Linked DNA regions of Homo sapiens: region 1 is linked to region 2. Evidence: fine-mapped expression QTL. A gene starts in region 2. The other region holds a variant in brackets. All regions are shown on one strand. Distances are from middle to middle.

Region 1 (2,909 bases), 22 kb before region 2:
TCCCTAGCTGGGCTTGCTGCTTCTCTAATCTCATTTCCCTACGTTTCTCACGGTGCTCCAGTCACTCCAGGCCACACCTGATCCCAGAAACCTACTTGTTCCTACTTTGAGCCTTTGCTTGTGCTGTTTCTTCCATTAAGGGTGCCCTTTTTGCCAGGTGCAGTGGCTCATGCCTATAATCCCAGCACTTTGGGAGGCCGAGGTGGGACAATCACCTGAGGTCAGGAGTTCGAGACCAGCCTGGCCAACATGGTGAAACCCCGTCTCTACTAAAAACACAAAAGTTAGCCAGGCGTGGTGGCAGGTGCTTGTAATCCCAACTACTTGGGCGGCTGAGGTGGGAGGATCGCTTGAACCTGGGAGGCAGAGGTTGCAATGAGCTGAGATCATGTCGCTACACTCCAGCCTGGGCAACAGAGCTAGAGACTCCGTCACAAAAAAAAAAAAAAAAAAAAAAAAAGAGTGCTCCTTTCCCCATTTTAGGAACTCCTACACATCCATCAAAACCTGGCCTAAAGGCCCTCTCCTCAATGGAACCTTTTCCAGCCTTTCACTTCTTGGGGTTCCCACAGCCCTTTACATGTCTCTATTCTGGTTGGCTCACCTGCTAGCCAGTGAGCTCCTGGAGGACAGGGATGGGTCTGGCTCATCTCTTTAACCGCCATGCTGAGCCCAGAGCCTGGTAAATGGTGGGTGCTCTATAAGCTCGTGCCCAGTCACTCACCTTTACAGCTCCAGTGTCTGGCTGACAGTGGGTGCTCAGTACATGTGGTTGGACAGATCAATGAGTGAATATTTGACGGAAGGGTGAATAATGACATCAAGGCTGCATTCCAATAACAGCACAATCCCAGTGCTGAGAAAACAATTCACAGCCCTGGATTCATATCATGGAATTCTGATTCCTAGGCCCCTTTGTTCCCAGAGCTATCCGATGATGCTGAAGAAGAGTCCCTGGGCATCATCTGTTCCAGCTGTGTGACCTTGAGCAAGTTGTTTAACCACCTTGTGCCCCAAGATTCTCATCTGCATAAAGAAGAGAAATAGCTACACCTTCCTCATGGGCTAGTTACAAGGATGAAATTTGATCATATGTGCCAAGCACTTAACACAACACATGAACATCACGGCATTGGCATGTCAGCTATGCCAATGACTCTATTTATACCTGAATTTTTATTTGAAATAATTTCAGACTTACAGAAAGTTTGCAATAATAATACAAAGAATTCCTACATACCATCACCCAGATTCCTTAAATGTTAACATTTTGCATTCTTTGCTTTTTCATTCTCTCTCAGCATATATTTTTGTCCAGTGCCTGAATTGTTGGAAATAAGTTGCAGACATGTTGACTCTTTACCTCTAAGTTAATTATCCCATGTATATTTCTAAAAACAAGAATATTCTCTTACAAAATCGCAGGACAGATAGAAAAATCAGGACACTGATACAATGCTATTGTCTATCTTATAGACCTATTGAAATTTTTTCAGTTCTACTAATGTCCTTTGTAGCAAATAAACAAAAAGATTTCTACCCCCCCACCCCACCCACTCAGTAACCAGTCCAGGACACATGTTGTATTTAATGTTTATGTCTCTTTAGTCTTCTTTTTAGTCTTATCTGGAGCAGTTTCTTTTTTTTGAGACAGAGTCTTGCTCTGTTGCCCAGGCTGGAGTGCAGTGGTGCCACCTCGGCTCACTGCAACCTCTGTCTCCCA[G/A]GTTGAAGTGATTCTCCTGCCTCAGTCTCCCGAGTAGCAGGAATTACAGGCGCCTGCCACCACGTTCAGCTAATTTTTGTATTTTTTTAGTTTTACCACGTTGACCAGGTTGGTCTCGAATTCCTGGCCTCAAGTGATCCACCTGCCTCGGCCTCCCGAAGTGCTGGGATTACAGGCGTGAGCCACTGTACCCAGCGTGGAACAGTTTCTTTGGCTTTTATGGCTGACATTATTTGAAGAGTTTAGGCCAGTTTTTTGTTTTGTTTTGTTTTGGTTTTTGAAGATGGAGTTTCACTCTTATTGCCCAGGCTGGAGTGCAATGGCACCATCTTGGCTCACTGCAACCTCCGCCTCTGGGTTCAAGCGATTCTCCTGCCTCAGCCTCCTGAGTAGCTAGGATTACAGGCGCTCGCCACTATGCCTGGCTAATTTTTTGTATTTTTAGTAGAGACAGGGTTTCACCATGTTGGCCAGGCTGGTCTCGAACTCCTGATCTCAGGTGATCCATCTGCCTCGGCCTCTCAAAGTGCTGGGATTACAGGTGTAAGCCACTGTGCCCAGCCTGGAACAGTTTCTTTGACTTTTATGATCAACATTATTTGAAAAGTTTAGACCAGTTGTTTTGCAGATTGTCCCTCTGTTTGGATTTTTGTGTTATTTCTTTATGCTTGGATTCAGATCAGGCACTTGTGGCAAGAACACCGCATCAGTGACGCTTTGTCCTTCACAGTGCGTCCCATCAGGGGGCCCATGATGCCTGCCGACTTGCCCCACTATTAGCAATGTTCACTGTGATCATTTGGTGAAGGTGGTGTCTGCCAGTTTTCCCTACTGTAAAGTTACCATTTTTCTCTTTGTAATTAACGAATACCTTATAGGAAGATACACTGATACTATGTAAATATTCTGTTTCTCTTTATATTTCCTGCCCATATATTTCCTAGCAGGATGATCTATTTTGCAATAGATGCAATTATTATTTGATAAAGGAATACATAAACATGGACCAATATTCCAACAGTATAAAAGAGTGTAAGGCAAATCTCCCACCCACTCCGTCCCCAGCCACCCCGATCCTCTCCCCAAGCCATCCCTAGTCTCACTGTTTCTTGTGTCCTTCCAGAAATGTTCTATGCATAGACAAGCGAATCCACTCATCCATCTTCTTCTCGAGTTATGTGCATGC
Region 2 (2,909 bases):
AGCTATGCAGGTGGGCACACAGGTGGCTGCAGGCCCACAGAAGCTCCTAACCCGGTAGGGATGGTCAGGGAAGATCCTGACACTGAGACAGGAAGACCGAGAAAGAGTGAGAAACGACAAGGCAGAGATAGAAGAGGTTCTCAACGGGAGAAAAAGCCCAGTGGTGGGACAGGGCATGCATGGCAGATCCCTTCCCATCTCAGCCAGGCGCCGTGCTACTATTGTGGCAACAGATAAGATGGGACGAGGTCCTCGCCCTTGTGGAGTGCACGTGAGGTCAGGAAGACAGAAAATAAAATGCAACACAAATAGATGTATAATATAATTTCTGGTGGACATAAGTGGTATCCTGAAAAACATCTCGGGCTAAGGGGAGAGCTAGAGAGGCCAGTGACTCTGACCAAGGGTGATCAAGGAGGCAGAGAGCTGAACCAGGCAGGGGAGCAGGCCCTGTGGTTGTCTGGGGAAGTGGCTCCAGGCAGTGAGGACACTAGTGTAAATACTAGGACTGAAAGTTATCGGGGGTGGCTGTAGAGGTGCTGGGTGGGGCTTAGGGATCTCATGTGCTCACCTTCCAAGGGTCGGGGGAAGGGGACACAACGTTATGTAGGCCTAACCTGACACCTGTTCTTGCGGGGCCCCCAAGTTCCTGCCAGAATCACTCCGGTATTCTTAACACCCTTCCTCAGTGGTGGAGCTGACCCTTGACCTCTCCCACTTCCCATTCAGACAAGGGCCTCCCAGCAGATATGACACACCTAGTCCCACTGTCACTGACTGTCACAGCCATGAGAGCCCACGGCTTATCTCCGGGTAGTGCGGTGGCCATGTGCTGGGCAGTGGGGCCCAGGCTGCCTGGGTGTGAATTCCAGCCGTGTCACTTTTTAAGCGCCTGATCTTAGTCAAGCCGCTGAAATCTTCCCTGCCTCAGTTCTCGTCTGCAAAAGAGCCACTATCTACCTCCTAGGGTTGGCATAGGAAACTGAGGGACTTCCTGCAGTTCCTGGACCACTGCAAGCACTAGCGTTATAAGCGTTATCATCACTACTTTAATTATCTCGCCCAATTCCCTCCTTGCTCAAGTGAGGAAACAGAGGCCCAGAGAGGCCCAGCTACTTGCTCAAGGTCACACAGCAGAGGCTGAGCTCCGGCTGGGCCCGGAACCAGTCCGTCTCGCGTCCATCGCAGCGACCTCCCTCCTCCGGCAACCTCCCTCCTCCGAAGCCCTCCCTCCGGTTGGCTGGACTCCCCGAGGCCTCACCCGGATCGTGTCCACGAGGCTCTGCACCTTGGCGGGGTCCAACACGGACGGCAGCGGCCGGATGAGCACGCTCAGCGGCACGTTGTGCACCGCGGCGATGCGGCCCGAGTGGATGCTGCCGCCCTGCGCGCCGCCGCTCGGCCCGGGCCCCTCGGGCGCCCCCCGACCCGCGCCGGCCCTGCCCAGCGTTCCTCCTGCACGCAGCCCCATCGTCGCCGCCGCCGCGGGACTCGCCGCCTCCCCCCGGCCTTAACTCCGGCCGGGCCATACCATTCCGCGCGGCCGGGGGGGGGGGCCCGTGCCAGGGCAGCGCGCGTTTCTCCCCCGACCCCGCCGCGGTCCGGCCTCGACCCCGCGGTCCCCAGCCCGACTCCGGCTCCGCTCGCCAGGTGCCGCCAGACTCGCGCGGGGCTCAGGCTCTCCACCGGGGGGCGCCTCTCGCCTCCCCTGCGCCGCGCGGCGTCCGGGGAGTGGAAACGCCCGGGCGGGCTGACTCAGGGTGAGTTTGCAGGTCGCGGGGCGGGAGGGGCGCGGGTGACGCACCGGCCGGGCCGACTTAGGCCGCGGGGGCGGGGGCGGGGGAGAGCGCGGCGGACCTGCCCAGCCAGGGTGAGTCGGCAAAGCCCGCGGTGCGCTGCTGCCCCGCTGCTGGGGTTCCTAGCCAGCGAGGTTATGATCCCCACCAGCGGTTCCACTTCCAGTCTGGCGCCGGCTGTGTCTGGAGTCGTTCCGAACATTTTGCACGTGTATTAACGTATCTGAACCTCAAAACAACCCTGCAAGGAAGGTATGACTGTTATTCCCATTTTACAGAAGAGGAGACTGAGACACAGGTTTAAGTGATGTACCCAAGATCACGGAACTAGTAAGTGGCCGAATCCGCGTTCAAATCCAGACGGTCTGGCTCCAGAGTCCGCCTTCTACCCCACCGTTGGCTGCCTTGGTTCAGCAACAGTGACTGTCACACGGAGCCCTCAGGAGTCGCGCTGACAATGGGTGGGCCCTGCCTTCAAGTTCCACACTGTCTGTTTGTGTCATTACAACACTACTGGAAGTAGGTGCAGTTATAGACCCGCTGTTCAAGGTCAGCTGAAATGAAAGTCAGGTCACACGAGTCCAAACTGTGGGGCCACTTAACCACCAACTCCAAGCAGGAAGGTGGACGATCCCAGACTCGGTCGAAGACAAGCATGTCTGGTTTGCTTGTCTTCCTTCTCAACCTGAATGGCACGAACATGGAGAAATGCATACTTACCCTGCCAGCTGGAGAAAACTGGAGACGAAGGAGGGAGCCAGGAGTTTCTACTTTGCCTTCCACCAGTTGCTGACACTTTCTGAACCCCGTCTGTAAAATGAAGTCATGCTGCCCATCACTCAAAGTTGTGTGAATTGAGAGAGTGCTCATAGTGCTCTGTGAATTGCATAACATCCATTTTGCTGTTGAAGATCATTTATTTTGGGTTCTTAGTCTCTCACAAAACCTTAGAACACTGACACCAAGACTCCAGCCTTTCCCTTTCGAAACATAATTCCCGTGCGCACCTAAATGATACTTTATTTCAAGAAGTAGAACTGACACCCACACCTCAGCCCCAGAATTATTCAGAATTAGAGAATTTCATCAAGAGGGAAGTTATCCCTTCTAAAA

What was found.
Region 1: its variant is fine-mapped to the expression of SRXN1 in whole blood (TOPMed, PIP 0.98).

What each region holds. Positions count from the first base shown.
Region 1 is chr20:630,158-633,066 of GRCh38, forward strand. No RefSeq gene overlaps it. Among named protein-coding and RNA genes, the nearest start is that of TCF15, 21 kb to the left of the region's middle. The variant G/A (reference allele first, on the strand shown) is at 1,724.
Region 2 is chr20:651,715-654,623 of GRCh38, forward strand. It overlaps SRXN1 (sulfiredoxin 1), which reads right to left and starts at 1,486. Exons shown (of 2, transcript NM_080725.3): 1 at 1,262-1,486. The coding sequence starts at 1,471. LOC107985423 (a long non-coding RNA gene) reads left to right here and starts at 1,239. Exons shown (of 2, transcript XR_001754452.2): 1 at 1,239-1,760; 2 at 2,075-2,909. RefSeq lists a silencer at 1,364-1,923.